Homo sapiens: one gene and its partners. The gene in region 5 interacts genetically with the main gene of each other region. Each region holds a gene or a part of one and is shown on either strand. Other genes may lie near its edges.

The links.
Region 1: changes in RAD51 (region 5) and ACACA together harm fitness less than expected from each alone (positive genetic interaction), as found in Homo sapiens cells (one large-scale study listed by BioGRID).
Region 2: changes in RAD51 (region 5) and ATR are lethal when combined (synthetic lethality), as found in Homo sapiens cells (one large-scale study listed by BioGRID).
Region 3: changes in RAD51 (region 5) and TRA2B together harm fitness less than expected from each alone (positive genetic interaction), as found in Homo sapiens cells (one large-scale study listed by BioGRID).
Region 4: changes in RAD51 (region 5) and PPP2R1A together harm fitness less than expected from each alone (positive genetic interaction), as found in Homo sapiens cells (one large-scale study listed by BioGRID).

What each region holds. Positions count from the first base shown.
Region 1 is NC_000017.11:37,246,335-37,249,853, reverse strand, and holds part of ACACA (acetyl-CoA carboxylase 1), read left to right. Parts: intron 1-1,179; coding exon 1,180-1,261; intron 1,262-1,697; coding exon 1,698-1,843; intron 1,844-2,877; coding exon 2,878-3,028; intron 3,029-3,519. UniProt on the Homo sapiens protein: Cytosolic enzyme that catalyzes the carboxylation of acetyl-CoA to malonyl-CoA, the first and rate-limiting step of de novo fatty acid biosynthesis.
Region 2 is NC_000003.12:142,449,731-142,453,249, reverse strand, and holds part of ATR (serine/threonine-protein kinase ATR), read left to right. Parts: intron 1-16; coding exon 17-122; coding exon of another isoform or gene 123-194; exon of another isoform or gene 195-2,647; coding exon of another isoform or gene 2,648-2,677; exon of another isoform or gene 2,678-2,691; intron 2,692-3,519. UniProt on the Homo sapiens protein: Serine/threonine protein kinase which activates checkpoint signaling upon genotoxic stresses such as ionizing radiation (IR), ultraviolet light (UV), or DNA replication stalling, thereby acting as a DNA damage sensor.
Region 3 is NC_000003.12:185,921,011-185,924,529, reverse strand, and holds part of TRA2B (transformer-2 protein homolog beta), read left to right. Parts: intron 1-545; coding exon 546-734; intron 735-2,403; coding exon 2,404-2,519; intron 2,520-3,342; coding exon 3,343-3,426; intron 3,427-3,519. UniProt on the Homo sapiens protein: Sequence-specific RNA-binding protein which participates in the control of pre-mRNA splicing. Can either activate or suppress exon inclusion. Acts additively with RBMX to promote exon 7 inclusion of the survival motor neuron SMN2.
Region 4 is NC_000019.10:52,214,039-52,217,557, forward strand, and holds part of PPP2R1A (serine/threonine-protein phosphatase 2A 65 kDa regulatory subunit A alpha isoform), read left to right. Parts: intron 1-1,740; coding exon 1,741-1,855; intron 1,856-1,965; coding exon 1,966-2,036; intron 2,037-2,490; coding exon 2,491-2,625; intron 2,626-3,519. UniProt on the Homo sapiens protein: The PR65 subunit of protein phosphatase 2A serves as a scaffolding molecule to coordinate the assembly of the catalytic subunit and a variable regulatory B subunit.
Region 5 is NC_000015.10:40,708,666-40,712,184, forward strand, and holds part of RAD51 (DNA repair protein RAD51 homolog 1), read left to right. Parts: intron 1-359; coding exon 360-451; intron 452-3,519.

The DNA of each region.
Region 1 (3,519 bases), on a different chromosome or scaffold from region 5:
CACAAGAGAATTATGGGAGCTACAGTTCAAGATGAGATTTGAGTGGGAACACAGCCGAACCATATCAACATGCAATATTTGTTTCTTCCCACCTCCTGGTTTTTTAAAACTCAAATGGTAGCATGCTGTGAAGCTGTTATTTACCTTGCTTTTTTAACTCAACAGTATATTTTTTAAAGTGTTTTTTAGTTCACATCTTTTTAATGTCTGTATGTTTTGTTCCACATGTGAAAACATGCGCAACATCACTAATCATTAAGTAAATAAAATCAAAACCATGATGAGATACCACCTCACACCCATTAGGATGCCCACTGTCAAAAAACAGAAAATAGCAAGTATTGGCAAGTACGTAGAGAAATTGGGACACTTGTGCACTCTTGATGGGAATGTAAAATGATGCAGCCACTATTGAAAAATGGTATTGCAATTACTGAAAAAATTAAAAATAGAATTACCCTATGATCTGGTAATACCACTTCTGGGTATTCTGAAAGAATTGAAAGCAGGGTCTGAAAGATACTTGCACAGCCACATTCATAGGAGGATTATTCACAGTAGCTAAAAGATGGGAGCAACTCAGATGTTGGTTGATGGATGACTGGATAAACAAAATGTGGCATATACATACAATACAGTATTATTCAGCCTTAAAGAAGAAGGAAATTCTGACACATGCTAAAACATAGGTGGATCTTAAGGACATTAGGGCAAGTGAATTAAGCCTGTCACAAAAAGACAAATACTATATGGTTTTACTTATATGAAGTATGAAGAGTAGTCAGACTCATAGAACTAGAAAGTAGAATGACGGTTACCAGGAACTGGGGGGAGGGCGAAATTGGGAGTTGTTAATGGGTGTAGAGTTTCACTTTTGCCAGTTGAAAAAGTCCTGCAGATTGGTTGCAGAATAGTGTTAATATCCCCAACACTATAGAACTGTGCATTTTGTAATGGTTAAGATGGCAAATTTAATGTAATGTGTATTTTACCCTAATTTAAAAAAATCCATTGTAAGATTCATAATTGATGTGATCAATTCCTTACAAACGATCATTTAGGTATTTAGGTTGTTTCTAGTCTTTTGTTATTCTAGGAAATGCTACAATCAATAATGTTTTAGATTCTCTTATAACTGTTAGAACTTTGTAGTAAGTTCCTCTCTCATCGTTCTTTCAGGGGTCAAGTCCTTCCTGCTCATACACTTCTGAATACAGTAGATGTTGAACTTATCTATGAGGGAGTCAAGTATGTACTTAAGGTATGCAGAACCCCATTGGAGCTTGCACCTTACTTTTTTAGCTATCTTTCTTTAGGTTGAGAGGCAGGAGAAAAAGTTTGATTTAATGCAGGGATGGGGGTATTAGTGAAATTACCGTCATTATTTTTGTCAGTGTCCTGAAGCAGCGTTTGTTGTTCTATGAAAATCTTTTTTGTTGTTCTTCAACTTCACATACACTGCCAAGAGATAAAGGAGAGACAGAGAACAACCACAGTTGGGGAAAATCAACTAAGGTTGCCCTCTTTGCTTACAGCAGGACTGAGCCATGTCCACAGACACTGATGCAAATAGCATCAGTGCCATGAATTTTCTTCCTCCTGACAGATCTTTCTTATCTGTATTTTTGAAGCATTCAAATTTCATTTGGAGCTGTACCTGGAAGGGACACACTGATCCTCATTCTCATTCCCTACAGGTGACTCGACAGTCCCCCAACTCCTATGTGGTGATCATGAATGGCTCATGTGTAGAAGTAGATGTACATCGGCTGAGTGACGGTGGACTGCTCTTGTCCTATGATGGCAGCAGTTATACTACGTATATGAAAGAGGAAGTGGATAGGTAAGTGGCTGTTTGAGGTCCATTTGCTGGTCATCCTGTTAGCCTTTTCTCTTATTAGCTACTAGCTCTTGGGATTTTCCCAGGCTTTTCTTGGTACTCATTTGTAGTTAAAAAAAAAAAAAATAGTACATGCACTTAACAAAAATATCAAGAGTATTAAAGTGTTTATAATTAAAAACATGTCTCCCTACCACTCCAGTGTATGTGGACAATGAAAAATAAGTTCCCCTTTTTATAAGTAACCATTGTTAAAAGTTTCTTACATATTTGAGTAGAAATTTTATATGCATATACAAGTTACACTCATGTACATACTGTTTTTCTTTAAATACATTCACAAATGTGGCTGGGCGCGGTGGCTCACGCCTGTAATCCCAGCACTTTGGGAGGCCGAGGCAGGTGGATCACCTGAGGCTGGGAGTTCAAGACCGGTGTGGCCAATGTGGTGAAACCCTGTCTCTACTAAAAATACAAAATTAACCAGATGTGGTGGCTTATGCCTGTAGTCCCAGCTACTTGGGAGGCAGAGGCAGGAGAATCACGTGAACCTGGGAGGTGGAGGTTGCGGTGAGCCGAGATCACGCCATTGCACTCCAGTCTGGGCAACAAGAGCAAAACTCCGTATCAAAAAAAAAAGAAATTCACAAATGTTCAACACCAGTTATGGTGTTATGAGAATGAAATAAATTAACATGTTGAAAATGTGTAGAACATTGCCACAACATAGCTAGGCTTCAAGAAATGTTAGCTATTACGTCATCAATATCTTTGTGTGTGTTTTTTTAAATGGTGGTACCTGTTATTTTTAATAGTCATGTGGTATTCCATTATATGATTATACTATATTTAATCTGATCCTTATTGAAGGAAATTTATGTTAATTGACATTGTAAACAAATATGCAGTGAATATGTCTGTGTGTGTGTATAATAAAGTTTTCAGGATTTTTTTTCTTTGAAGGTTGACATTCTCTACCATTCTCCTTTACATCCTGAGGTGCTTTCTTAGCTTACATACTTCCACTTGTCTCCTAGATATCGCATCACAATTGGCAATAAAACCTGTGTGTTTGAGAAGGAAAATGACCCATCGGTGATGCGCTCACCTTCTGCTGGGAAGTTAATCCAGTACATTGTAGAAGATGGAGGTCATGTGTTTGCCGGCCAGTGCTATGCTGAGATTGAGGTCAGGGTGGTGAAAGGACTGTGGGATCATGGGAGGGGAAGGTAGGAAAAGGGTCGGCTGGGATGGACTAGGACTGAAAAGTTACAGAAAGGAGGCTGGGCACAGTGGCTTGTGCCTGTAATCCTACCACTTTGGGAGGCTGAGGCAGGAAGATCGCTTGAGCCCAGGAGTTCGAGACTAGCCTGGGCAAGATGGTGAGACCCCATCTCTATGAAAAATTAAAAAATTAGCGGCGTACAGTGGCACATGCCTGTAGACCCAGCCACTCTGGTGTCTAAGGCGGGAGGATCCCTTGAGCCCAGGAATTCAAGGCAGCAGTGAATGGAGATTGTACCACTGTACTGGAGTGGTACAATTTGTGGCCTGCGTCACAAATCAAGACCCTATTTCTAAAAAATTAAAAAAAAAGGTAACAGATTGGAAATAAGAATGAAAAAGAAACATCAGTTGGCTTAATTAGAAGTGCGAACCTTAAGATTTTTAAAACACAT
Region 2 (3,519 bases), on a different chromosome or scaffold from region 5:
TTTGTTTCAATTTTAGTGTCTTAAAGACTTTTCTACATGATCCTCTTGTGGAATGGAGTAAACCAGTGAAAGGGCATTCCAAAGCGCCACTGAATGAAACTGGAGAAGTTGTCAATGAAAAGGTTAGTAGAAGGTATAGCTTGATATGGGCTGTAGTCCTCATCTCTACAAATGAACTTGATATGCAGCTATAGTTCTCATCTCTATGCATGAGAACTGCTTGGAAATACTGTTAGTGACTATTGATTACTCTGAAATCTAGTTCTCTAGTATCACAATGCCATAAGTTTTCTTTATTGTCAGTAATGTTAACAGTATTCGCATTTGTATAATAAAAGTTCATGGCACACTTGTTTAACCATAGACAATTCACAGTTATGAGATACAGTAGGAAAAACTATAGTACAAATTGCCTGAACTTACAGAACAACAGGTCTGAGCTTTAATATCATGATACCAGTATGTCACAAGCTATGTTAACAAATGCAGCAATTCACTTCTTACTTAGTTGAAGCTGCAAAGTTTGCAGATAGTTTTGTTGTTGTTGTTGTGGTGGTGGTGGTGGTTGTTGTTTTTGAGACAGAGTCTCGCTCTGTCATCCAGGCTGGAGTACAGTGGCACGATCTTGGCTCACGGCAACCTCTGCCTCCTGGGTTCAAGCAGTTCTCCTGCCTTAGCCTCCCAAGTAGCTGGGATTATAAGCGTGCACCACCACAGCTGGCTAATTATTATATTTTTAGTAGAGATGGGTTTCACCATGTTGGCCAGGCTGGTCTTGAACCCCTGGCTTCAAGTGATCCACCCACCTCAGCATCCCAAAATGCAGGGATTATAGGCATAAGCCACTGTGCCTAGCTCAGATAGTTGTTTTTAATAAGTTAGAATAGATTGAGGATTCGTTTTTTTTGGTGGGGGGCACTCTTACATCTTTAATAAGTCTTGTACAGGCTTACTAAATACAATGAATTATACCAACTATATGCTAATAAAGATTAAAAATTTACATTCCAGTTAACTACCTAAAGAGTTTAAGTCCACTTTCATCCTACTGATATAGCTCGAGGAAGGCTAGACCTGTACGCCCCCATCCTTCATGTCATCCTTAACCCTTTGTCTTGAGAAAGAAGGTTTAGCTGCTTCTTTAGTTCTTCTAAAAGAACTAAAAGAAAAATTTCTTTTTCTTGCTCTATTATCTTCATCTGTAGGGTGAGATTAATATTTCCAGAATTGTGGAAAAATTCACTCTGTAGCAGTTGAAGAGCAGATGGTCTCTGGGACATGTTCCTTTTCGTTAAGTGATAGATATACTTGGCTTGTACTGGATACCTTTTACTGAGGGATTCCAATATCTGACCAGTTCTTGAACCTGTTAAAACTTCTGCTCGCTCCATTTCTGTTCTAAACAGCTGAAAGAGCTCTAGCAGGATCACACTCAAGCTATATACATATCTAACTGGACAAAGCCAGCCCTGGTCTCTACAAATAGTTTTTGTTTTTTTTTAATTAGCTGGGCTCAGTGGCACACTCCTGTAGTCCCAGCTACTTGGGAGGCTGAGGTGGGAGGATCACTTGACCCCAGGAGTTGGAGGCTGCTGTGAGCTATGATGACACCACTGCACTCCAGCCTGGGCAACAGAGTGAGACCCTTGGCATCATACTCAGATCCTTCCAACTGCTGGGATGAAGCATACAGACAAGTGCCCACTCTGGATATAGGTGTTGGTGTTCTCTTTCTGTTTCTATGGGTCCAGTCTGTGTTCTTTTGTAAGATGTCTGGGCAAGCCAGACCAAAGTCTCCTATTTTTACTTGCTGATCAGGGCCATGAAGAAAAATATTTCTAGGCTTCAGATCTCTGTTTACAATACCCATGTTATGTATGTAAAACACACCTTCCACTAAATCTTGAAAATTTTTTGTTGCAACACTGGCCATAAGGACAGGCAAACTTGCCCACACACTCTTGGCCCTGTTTGTTTCTCTCAGCTAGCCAGTCCCACAGCTGGAGCTTGCACACCTGCATCTGGATGTGCAGCATCAGGTGGTACTGCACCTCGATCCCCAACAAGTTGAAGTTTTCTTTGGAAGATTCCTCAGTGGATGTGAAATTCTCCTCTAGGAGGGAATTACACCTGAGCAGCAGGGGCTGTTTCACAATTGACCAGGTAGACAAACCAGCCAGGCCATTTTCCTGGAGCTCCAGGGATGATTCATATTCACTGGTGTCTCTTAAGACGGAATTGATGGTGTAGTTCACAGCTTGTTGTTCTGATTTTGAGTGTCAGATTCTGCAAAGGGTTTTTCTTTTCTGAGGTGAGCTCCGCGAAGATAATGGGTGAGCTGCTATTTTCACCATTTTTAACACCGTATTGGTATCTGTCTGCTTGGTCGGAGAACACTTCCAGAAATGGCAACTGAACGGAAGCTCTGTCTGCTTGTGGTTGGACCACTTGAACATGTTCTGTCCACGCAGTGTGATAACGAATGATATTAGGGTGCTGAAGACCTGCCAGCACCTTCATTCCCCGTAGTTCTTTCATGTAATGTGTTTTTGTTGCACCCTTAATCAGGATTTTTTAAATTGCATAATACTGACCATCTAATTTATTCCTGACCTTGTATACTCTTCCATATCCACCTTTTCCTAAGATGGCAAGTTCTTCAAATTCATTTAAGTAACGTGAAGTTTGTGCTTCAAAGGGTACTTCCCTTGATCTGATTTTCTGGATATGAGAAATAGCCTCACAAGGATCCTGATGAACTCTCTCTTTAGTGGACCTCATTAAGTGAGTAATAGCTCTGTGGTGATGTAGTCTCAATGAGCTAAACTTGTCACAAGTGAAAGAAGACAGCAGCCCCATTTTGATAAAGGTCTGGCAAAGTAACTTAAACACTGTCTTGAATGAACTGGGTTTGGTTCACGCACATGGCTCAAGTGCTTCACCAAAGAAATAAGCGGCAGCTGGTTTGCAACTGCAAAAGGGAAAGTTGGCTGTTGTAGGGGTTATTTTAATACCTGGAGTTCTGCTGGAACATAAGTCATATTTGGAGTCCAGGCTCTTGGCGGAAAAGTCGATGGCAGATGGCACAGCAACAGTCTCCACCCCGTGGCCCTCCTCTTTGTGCTCGTGGGCTGCAGCGCAGCCCACCAGCCCACCCAGCACCACCTCTGAGAATTATTCTTCTAATAACGTTATTCTTCCTTTTGCATTCAGATATGCTTAAGAAATTGTACAGTTCCAAGTAGCTCACTTAGAACACCCATTTGCATGTACTAACATAATGTAAATATTAGGCAGTACAGCATTGTTATTTGAATATTCATTGAAATGTTTAAGTCCTAAACACTTCCAAAGCAGATTTAAAAAATTATTTTTCTAGAATTGTAATGTGTAAATAATTCCCTGGTATTTCACGTAGTCCAGAAACATGTCCAAGCAGTTGATGTTGAATCAATCTTGCGAGCCTCCAAATCAGTATCACAAGCTAACTGTATTTGTTTAATTTCTTCTTTTCCTGTA
Region 3 (3,519 bases), on a different chromosome or scaffold from region 5:
CAACTCTTGTTTCTTACGATTGCAAGCTGTTTATGACCTGTAAAATGGTTTGGTACGCATCCCCTCAGGCTTCGTTTATGTACTTACTTGTGTATTGTGTTTCTGAAAAAATCGAACCATACATGCTCATCTTTTTGGCAATTCAGAGCATTCTATTGAATGGAAGGTGTGTCAACATTACAATTTTTTCTAGCTGATAGACACAGTGTGGTTCCAGTTATCCTTGTATGTCATGTTATGAATATGTGAATTTTTCTTAGAATAAATTCATAGAAGGAAAGATGCCAAGTTGCTTTTCGCCAGCACGAGTGCTTGTTTACCTACTTAATTCTAAGGTTGAAATTTTTTCTTTTGCATTCTTTCCTACCCATTCCCAAAAATACTTGTAGTACTTGCTGTAATTTTGTAATTTCTAAGCAGTGTTTGGTCTAATCATTATGTACTTTTCTTGTTAGTGACATTTTGGCTAGTATACAGCTCCCTTTTTAAACAACTTTGATTTTATGACAACTTTTCCAAAGTTTAAAACTTTTTTTTTTCCCTAGGCAAATCCTGATCCTAACTGTTGTCTTGGAGTATTTGGGCTGAGCTTGTACACCACAGAAAGAGATCTAAGAGAAGTGTTCTCTAAATATGGTCCCATTGCCGATGTGTCTATTGTATATGACCAGCAGTCTAGGCGTTCAAGAGGATTTGCCTTTGTATATTTTGAAAATGTAGATGATGCCAAGGAAGTAAGTAAAAGCCCGTTCCTTTGTAAACCATCAGTTCTATTGTTAACGCCAAGTTATCAGTGACCAATTGCTAGGATAAGGACAAGGACAAGTCAGTAATACTTCGAACTTTTTCTCCAACCTCTTGTGGAGACTCAAGATACATGCAGAATAACAAAATTTTGTATAACTTGGGGAAGTTGGTCCTACCACCTGCTTTATTAGTTGCCACCTATTGGGGTCAACTATACCCCAATTCCGCCAGGATATGTAGTCAGTGTTTACACTGGGTTCACATTCTAGAGTCAAAAATAACCAAAAGCAAAGTTATGATGCAGAAGGAAAACATTGTTCCTTTTTTGGCTAGTGAATGATGTCATATTTGGATTTTGATTTGTTTTGAGGCAGAATATAGAGTCAAGATTTGAAATGTGGGGCTAGACCCCATTTAAGAAATTCAGATTTTAGGTACATTAAGGATGGTAGCTAAAGTCATCTCCAAGTATAGAGAAGAGGAAGAACTGAGAAACACTTAATGACAAACGGAGTTTCACTCTTCTTGCCTGGGCTGGAGTGCAATGGCGCGATCTCCGGCTCACCGCAACCTCCGCCTCCTGGGTTCAAGCAATTCTCCTGCCTCAGCCTCCTGAGCAGGTGGGATTACAGGCTACCACACCCAGCTAATTTTGTATTTTTAGTAGAGACGGGGTTTCTCCATGTTGGGTCAGGGTGGTCTCGAACTCCCAACCTCAGGTGATCTGCCCCCCTCGGCCTCCCAAAGTGCTGGGGGATTACAGGTGTGAGCCACCATGCGCGGCCGCCCATTTCCTAATTAAATTTTTGCAGTAGGATCATAGCTCTCGGAAAATAGCATAAATTTTATCTTAATCTCTAGTGCCAGAAACTGCCTGGGCGTAAACACTAGCTTGAACATCTGAACTAGAAGATAGCATAGTATTGGAATTAGAAACTTAAATTCTATTTAGGTGAAAGGATGTTTCCTCAAATTATGAACAAACTTTAATGTGTTTGAAACGGGGTATTTTTATTTTTTAAATGTATGCTGTTAATACATACTTTGGGAAAAGGAACTATATGTACTTAAGGCTGTGCTTCAGTCTTAGCTTTTGGCTTCCAGAGAAGGGCTAAGAAAACTTCCAAGGGTTAAATAATGTGTTCAGGTTTCAGTCATAGGATCTCAGTCGCAACTATTTAACTCTGTTGTTTTAACCCAACAGCAGCCAGATGAATGAGTTGGGGCCCTATTCCAATAAAAGATTATTTTGGGGCATTGGAATTTGGATTTTGTGTGTTTCTTCACTTGTCATGAAATACTGTTTTTCCCCCTAGTTATTTAAATTTTTAGCTTATGGGTTATACAGAAACAGCCAGCTGGCCAGATTTGACCTACAGGCTATAGTTTGCCAATTGTGTGCTGCTTTGGAGCTGGAAATACTGTCAGGATCATAGTTAGGTAAAATAATTGTTTCAAGTTTTTATGAGTAGCTTTTACAAATGAACATTTAGTAGAGGGAACAACACATTTGTAAGTTGTAGACCTTACGTTCTGGCTAACATTAAGATAACTTAATGCACCTAACTGAAATGTCCAGTGGGATCTTACTCATAGCCACAGGATAATTAGTGGCTTTGTTCAGGATGTATGTAACAATTTATTTACCTTTTGAAGGCTAAAGAACGTGCCAATGGAATGGAGCTTGATGGGCGTAGGATCAGAGTTGATTTCTCTATAACAAAAAGACCACATACGCCAACACCAGGAATTTACATGGGGAGACCTACCTAGTAAGTTTATTTTCAAAATAAATATAATTGGCAGTTTTTCACTTGTCAAAGAAACACTTGTATTAGTGGAAAGTCTTCAGCACTTAGGTTTGTGCCATAAACTTGACTGTTGATTGATTAAATGCTCCTCATTAGGGCATTTTTCTCATAGTAGAAGTTCAACCATTACAGGTAAAACTAAATCTTAGTCAAGTCCATTTTTAAATTTTTTGTTTGTTGTTGTTTGGTTTTGTTTTTGTTTTGTTTTGAGACGGAGTCTTGCTCTGTCGCCCAGGCTGGAGTGCGATGGTGCAATCTCAGTTCACTGCAACCTTCGCCTCCTGGGTTCAAGCAGTTCTCCTGCCTCAGCCTCCCGAGTAGCTGGGACTACAGGCGCGTGTCGCAACGTCCGGCTAATTTTTTGCATTTTTAGTAGAGGCAGGTTTTCACCATGTTAGCCAGGATGTTCTCGATCTCCTGACCTCATGATCTGCCCGCCTCGGCCTCCCAAAGAGCTGGGATTACAGGCGTGAGTTGCTGCACCCGGCCTAAATTTTCTTAAATAGAGCAAAGTGATACTATTTTTGTTTCCTCTTAGAAATATGTGGGATATGCAGATTGACCTCTGGCAGGATCTGTGTGCCTCCTTAACCAAAGATTTTTAAAAATAGGTTTATATATATTGAAACAAGGGAAAGGGCAATGTTTGCTCAATATAGGTGAGAATTTTAACAGGAATAATTTTCATTTTCCAGTTAATGTGTCAGAAAAGGCCTACTAGTAGATATAAAAACTCATGTCCAGAAAGATAAGGGAGGTCACCTGAATATTTTTTTCTTCATAGTGGCAGCTCTCGCCGTCGGGATTACTATGACAGAGGATATGATCGGGGCTATGATGATCGGGACTACTATAGCAGATCATACAGGTAAGTTATGAGGTAGAAAGGTCAACGTCTGAATCTCAGTACAGTGTACAGAGCAGCACTATGCTTAAGTTTTAGCCTTTGTTAAAAGCTTTG
Region 4 (3,519 bases), on a different chromosome or scaffold from region 5:
TGGGACAGACAGACAGATGTGGGGCCTTGGAAGCATTGAGGAGGGGAGGTGGTGTTACAGCTGGTTCTAGAAGATGAGTGGGTAAGAGCTAAGATAGGAACTTTGTTCCAGCCAGAGGACAAAGAACCCTGGGAGGTGAGAGCAAGTGCAAGCAGGAACATTCAGGCCTGATCTTGATGGCCCAGCCTGAGAGAAAGCAGGAGAGAGGGCAGGGTGGGATCGGAGAGAGGGCAGGGTGGGATCAGAGAGGCCTTGAGTGCCACTCCACCCTGAGGCGCCCTTTGCCTTTAATTATGCTGGTTCCCACTGGCATTTGCGGGAAGGACTCAGAGCTTCAGAATAGCGTACCATCACCACAGTTAGGGAAGGTTCTTCCCATCCTTGTCTCCTGAGCTGCATAAACTGTGTCACACTGGGTCTTAGAATAAAAATTCCATGAGGGCAGGAATTTTAGGCTGTTAAACCAGTTCTTGGCACATAGTAGACATTCAGTAAATATTTGCAAGATGAATAAAAGGCAGTATTTTCCCAAGATATCATGAGGTCCTTCAAGATTTTTACTTGTTCATTCCCGTCTTCATAATGAACTGTCCTGCTTCCTACCAGGTCTTCAGGAACCAGCTTTGCAGCAGGAGCCGTGCGTCTTTCCATGCCTGGTGCCATGAAACAGGCAGGGCCAAGCGTGCCTCCCTTTTTTTTTTTTTTTAAGACAGAGTCTCAGTCTTTTGCCCAGGCTGGAGTACGGTGGCACAAGCTCAGCTGACTGCAACCTCCACCTCCCAGACTCAAGTGATTCTCGTGCCTTAGCCTCCTGAGTAGCTGGAATTACAGGTGTGCACCACCACACCCAGCTAATTTTGTATTTTTAGTAGAGATGGGGTTTCACCATGTTGGCCAGGCTGGTCTCGAATTCCTGGCCTCAAGTGATCCACCCACCTCTGTCTCCCAAAGCGCTGGGATTACAGGTGTAAGCCACTACGCCCAGCCCTAGAGTGCCTTCCTTTCTGTCAATCTTTATTGTTTTATTTTTATTTTGAGACAGGGTCTCACACCATCACCCAGGCTGGAGTGCAGTGGCACAGTCACGGCTCACTGCAGCCTTGACCTCCTGGGCTCAGGTGATCCTCCCACTTCAGCCTTCTGAGTAGCTAGGACGATAGGTGCCTGCCCCCACACCCGGCTAATTGTTTTGTTTTTTTTGTAGAGTCAGGGTTTCACTGTGTTGCCCGGGCTGGTCTTGTTCTCTGGGACTCAAGCGATCTGTCCACCTCAGCTTCCCAAAGTGCTGGGATTATAGGCATGAGCCATCGCACTTGGCCTATTGTTTTATTTTCATTACAAAAGTAATTCGTGCTTCTGGTAACAGATCTTTAAGAAATACAGCCATATATAAATCAAAAAGTTGCAGTCACTATATCATTTGAATGTTTTTGAATCAGGTAACAGAAAACTTAACCTCAGTAGCCTGAATAATATGGAAATGTGTTATTTTTAATGCTGACAACACCGTGAGGTAGGTGCCCTCGCAGTCCTCATTTTTCTTTGGAAGCAAAAGAGGCTCAGCGAGGTGAAGAGCCTTGCCCCGGGGCCAGTCTTGGCACTCGAATTAGATTTTAGCACTGCTTCCAAGGCCCACGCTCTGTCCCCTAATTCTGGTGCCTTCACTTTGATTTTGGCTTCCTTAGCCCAGAGTAAACTGCCAGCCCCTCTCACTCTCCCCCTCCTCCTTCCTGTCTGCAGCTCCAGAAAGCAGTGGGGCCTGAGATCACCAAGACAGACCTGGTCCCTGCCTTCCAGAACCTGATGAAAGACTGTGAGGCCGAGGTGAGGGCCGCAGCCTCCCACAAGGTCAAAGGTTGGTGCTGGCAGCCGGAACACAGCAAGTGGGGTGGGTATCCAAGGGGCTGGAGGTGGAACTAGCACATCAGGTCTCACTTCCCTTTGCCTCCCTCTCCCTGCCCACAGAGTTCTGTGAAAACCTCTCAGCTGACTGTCGGGAGAATGTGATCATGTCCCAGATCTTGCCCTGCATCAAGGTAACAGAGAGTTTGATGGGAGGAACCAAGTGGATCCGAGCCTGCCAAAAAGAGGGGCTGGAGACAAGGCTTTGGGGATAGTCAGCTGCAAACTAGGTTCCCAGCCCTCTGGGACCAGGCAGCTCTTGGGTTTCAAGCAGTTAGGGGTCCTGACTGCAGCTTGAGGCTGACCTTAAAGGTGGAAGTACTTTCTAGAACCTCAGATGTCACTGAGTCCTGTCATTCACAGGGTTTTGGGGTTGGAGTGGGGGCTGCTGAGAGCAGGGGTCATTGAACTCTTAAGTAGGTGGTACTCATAAGGAATAGTGATTTCCCCTGTACCCTAAGCCATCCCCTGCTCTATGAATGAGAGGGGCAGAAGCAGGTTATTGTCTCTTAGGAGTTGGCATCTGCTTAGCCACTTGCTGCTGCAGGGGTTGCACTGACCCCTGTGCCTGCCTCTTCTCTCTCCCAGGAGCTGGTGTCCGATGCCAACCAACATGTCAAGTCTGCCCTGGCCTCAGTCATCATGGGTCTCTCTCCCATCTTGGGCAAAGACAACACCATCGAGCACCTCTTGCCCCTCTTCCTGGCTCAGCTGAAGGATGAGGTAAGGGCACCAGGATCTCAGCTCTGGGTTTGTGGAGGGGACAGGCGGGTCTTCCTAGATTGCTAGGGTTTACCTAGATTGACCAGGAATCTGCTGATATCTCAACAGACATCCAGATCTTTGCTGAGTTGCATGTTTGTGGGCATAGCTGTGTGTTCATGCGTTCATTCCTCCAGGCACTCTTCATGAGGCCTTTCCTGGACATGGAGGATATGAAAAATAGAAATTTAAAGTTTTTATTTATGGCCAGGCGCGGTGGCTCACGCCTGTAATCCCAGCACTTTGGGAGGCTGAGGCGGGTGGATCACCTGAGGTCAGGAGTTCGAGACCAGCCTGGCCAACATGATGAAACCTCGTGTCTGCTAAAAATGCAAAAATTAGCCAGGCATGGTGGCGAGTGCCTGTAATCTCAGCTACTCGGGCAGCTAAGGCAGGAGTATCACTTGAACTCAGGAGGCAGAGGTTGCAATGAGCCAAGATTGCACCACTGCACTCCAGCCTGGACAACAGAGCAAGACTCTGTCTCAAAAAAAAAATTATTTATTTATGTTTTGAGATAGGGTCTTGCTCTATTGCCCACACTGCAGTGCAGTGATGTGATCATGGTCTACTGCAGCCTCCACCTTCCAGGCTCAAGTGATCCTCCCACCTTAGCCTCCCAAGTAGCTGGGACTACAGGCAAGAGCCACCACATCTAGATAATTTTAAAAAACATTTTCCATAGAGACAAGATATTATGTTGCCCAGGTTGGTCTTGAACTCCTGATCTCAAGCAGTCCTTTTGCCTTGGCCTCCAAAGGCCTGGGATTATAGGCGTGAGCCGCTGCCCCCAGCCTAGAATAAGAGTTTTGATCCCCAAAAGCCTTCAGAGACTGGCAGTGGAGAGAGACAGGC
Region 5 (3,519 bases):
TTCTGCCTCCCAGGCTCAAGTGATCCTCTCACCTTAGCTCCTGAGTAGCTGGTACTACAGGCATCCGCCACCATGCCCGGCTAATTTTTGTAGAGACAGGGCTTCACCATGTTGCCCAGGCTGGTCTCGAACTCCTGAACTCAAGCAATCCACCCACCTAAGCTTCCTAAAGTGCTGGGATTACAGGCATGAGCCACCACGGCTAGCCTCAAAATACATTTGTGAAAAATTATCGCTTGTTGGAAATTGAATTTTTAACTTACATAAACATCTTTCTGATGAGCTCCAAGAACATTTCTATGACTACAGTTTCTACATGTTTGTATTATGCTAAGAGTTATTTCTTATCGCTTTTTTAGGTGGAATTGAGACTGGATCTATCACAGAAATGTTTGGAGAATTCCGAACTGGGAAGACCCAGATCTGTCATACGCTAGCTGTCACCTGCCAGGTGAGCTGTTGGGGCTATAGCTAATCAAATAAGCAAGCATTACTTCATTCCTGCTATTTGCAAGCATCTGTTAGGATGGCCATAAAAGGTACTTTCTCTGTCCTCAAGAATCTTATAGCTGTTAATAGTTAGAAGATAGACTCCTACTTCAAAATCCTTCCATGTCATAGAAACTTCCAAATCATTGATCTCCTATCAGATACGTTAATTTCAAATACTTTTGCTACCAGGCCTTTTCCTGGCTTTACTTGCTACTTTTTTTTTTTTTTTTTTTTTTTGAGGCAGAATCTCGCTGTGTCGCCCAGGCTGAAGTACAGTGGTGTGATCTCAGCTCACTGCAACCTCCTCTCTGGTTCAAGTGATTCTCCTTCATCAACCTCCCGAGTACCTGGGATTACAGGCGCCCACCAGCATGCCCGGCTAATTTTTGTGTTTTTAGTAGAGAGGGGGTTTCACCATGTTGGCCAGGCTCCTCTTGAACTCCTGATCTCAAGTGATCCACCCACCTTGGCCTCCCAAGTGCTGGAATTATAGGCGTAAGCCACTGCGCCCAGCCCTCCATCTTCTTCATTAGTCTAGATTTTATGATTCATCATTAAAGTAATTCTCTTGCAGATAGCCTCAGTTTACATACCCACTTGAAGAGATGCCAACCTTAGATGAAACTCATCTATCTTCTCAGTGTCTGTACCCAAATAGCTGATTATACTGGAGAAAAATCGTATCATACAGCTGACTGACTTCACTTTAAATTCAAGATGACAGGCCAGGCACGGTGGCTCACGCCTGTAATCCCAGTACTTTGGGAGGCCGAGGCGGGTGGATCACTTGAGATCAAGAGTTTGGCTGGGCGCGGTGACTCACGCCTGTAATCCCAGCACTTTGGGAGGCCGAGGTGGGCGGATCACAAGGTCAGGAGATTGAGACCATCCTGGCTAACACAGTGAAACCCCATCTCTACTAAAAATACAAAAAATTAGTTGGGCGTGGTGGCGGGTGCCTGTAGTCCCAGCTACTTGGGAGGCTGAGGCAGGAGAATGGCGTGAACCCGGGAGGCACAGCTTGCAGTGAGCCGAGATTGCGCCACTGCACTCCAGCCTGGGCGACAGAGCGAGACTCTGTCTCAAAAAAAAAAAAAAAAAAAAAAAAAAAAAGAAGAAGAAAAAAAAAAGATCAGGAGTTCAAGACCAGCCTGGCCAACATGGTGAAACCCTGTCTCTACTAAAAATACAAAAATTAGCTGGGCGTGTTGGCACGTGCCTGTAATCCCAGTTACTTGGGAGACTGAGGCAGGAGAATCGCTTGAACCCGGGGGGCAGAGGTTGCAGGGAGCTGAGATCGCACCATTGCATTCCAGCCTGGTCAAAGAAGCGAGACTCTGTCTCAAAAAAAAAAAAAAAAAAAAAAAGAATGAAAAAAGGAAAAAAATTCAAGATGACAAAACTTTAGATTAACATTCAAAACTTCTTGGCAGTCTACTTTCTCCATTTAGGTGTACTTTCCCACTGAGTTAGACAGGCATCTCATATCTCATACTTCGTCTTCTGTTATCAGAACTTTATGCTCCTCTTCAACTCTCATTCTTAGCCAAAAACCTAACCTGCTCTTTGCATCAAATCTACATTTGTGCCCATCTTTTCTTATCTCAGGTTACAATTGAGAAAGTGTCCCTTTTCTTCTCAAAGGCCCATTCTATCAATATGATTTGGTTACCATCTCCTGCCACCTTCTCAAGGACTCTACTCCTTCCATTTTCTCTTGTACCTCTCTATGAGATTATCCTCATCAGTATACAAATATGTCTAGTGTCTCCTCCATTAGGAAAAAACCTTCCCTGGACCCCTTCAGTTTCTTTTTCCTTTACTTATGCTCCTATTGGTGGGAAGATTTGGAAATAGACACAGTAGGTTAAATAATTGCCCAATACATTGTATTTAAGTAGCAAATACTGGACTCAAACCAGACTTCAGAGATGATGTTCTTAAAACTTCATAAGAGGCCAGCATGGTGTTTCATGCCTGTAATCCCAGTACTTTGGGAAGCCAAAGTGGGAGGATTGCTTGAGACCAGGAATTTGAGACCAGCCTGGGCAACATAGTGAGACCCTGTTTCTGAGATGCCATTTCTAAAAACAAACAAACAAAAACAGACAATTAAAAATATTAGCCCAGCATGATGATGTGTACCTGTGGTCCTAGCTACTCAGGAGGCTGAGGTGGTAGAATCTCTTGAGCCCAAGAGGTCGAGGCTCCAGTGACTGGGATCGTGCCACTGCATGTTTTCTGCTGTATTGCTAGTGCCTAAGGCAGTGTTTGGCTCTCAGTAAACAATAAATGCTTGAATGAGTGGAGATAATAGATGTCCAAAAACATGCCTGATATATAAAATGAATGTCACAGAGGAAATGGGTTAGCTGTTTAAGGAATAGAAAGGGGTAATTTCACCCTAGAGTGATCATGGAATACTTTATGGAGAAAAGATTTTGGACCAGACTTCTGAAGAATGCTAAATTTGGGAAGGAAGGAAATTAAAAGCATTTAACTGTATAGAATGGGATGAACAGAGGATGGGAAGGCATAAGTTAGAAGGAAAAGACAATAAATAAGCAAGGTCATTTAACTGGTTTAGAGTTTGTGTAGAAAAGTTGTAGGAGATGACCCTTAAAAAGATACATCAAACTGGGCATGATAGCTCACACCTGTAATCCCAGCACTTTGGGAGGCCACGGTGGGTGGATCGCTTGAGCTCAGGAGTTTGAGACCAGCCTGGGCAACATGGCAAGACCCTATCTCTACAAATAATATAAAAATTAGCCAGACGTGGGCTGTGCCTGTAGTGGCAGCTACTTGGGAGGTGGAGGCGGGAGAATCGCTTGAGCCCAGGAGGCCAAGGTTGCCATGAGCCAAGATTGTACCACTGCTCTCCAGCCTGGGCAACAGAGCAAGATTTTGTCTCCATCTCAAAAAAAAAAAAAAAATTAAGATCCTATTTCAGAAGGTTAAGAAGTTTAAACTTGATTTTATGAAGAGTAAGCATTAGCTGGTCAGGAAACTAAGATAGTGACAATA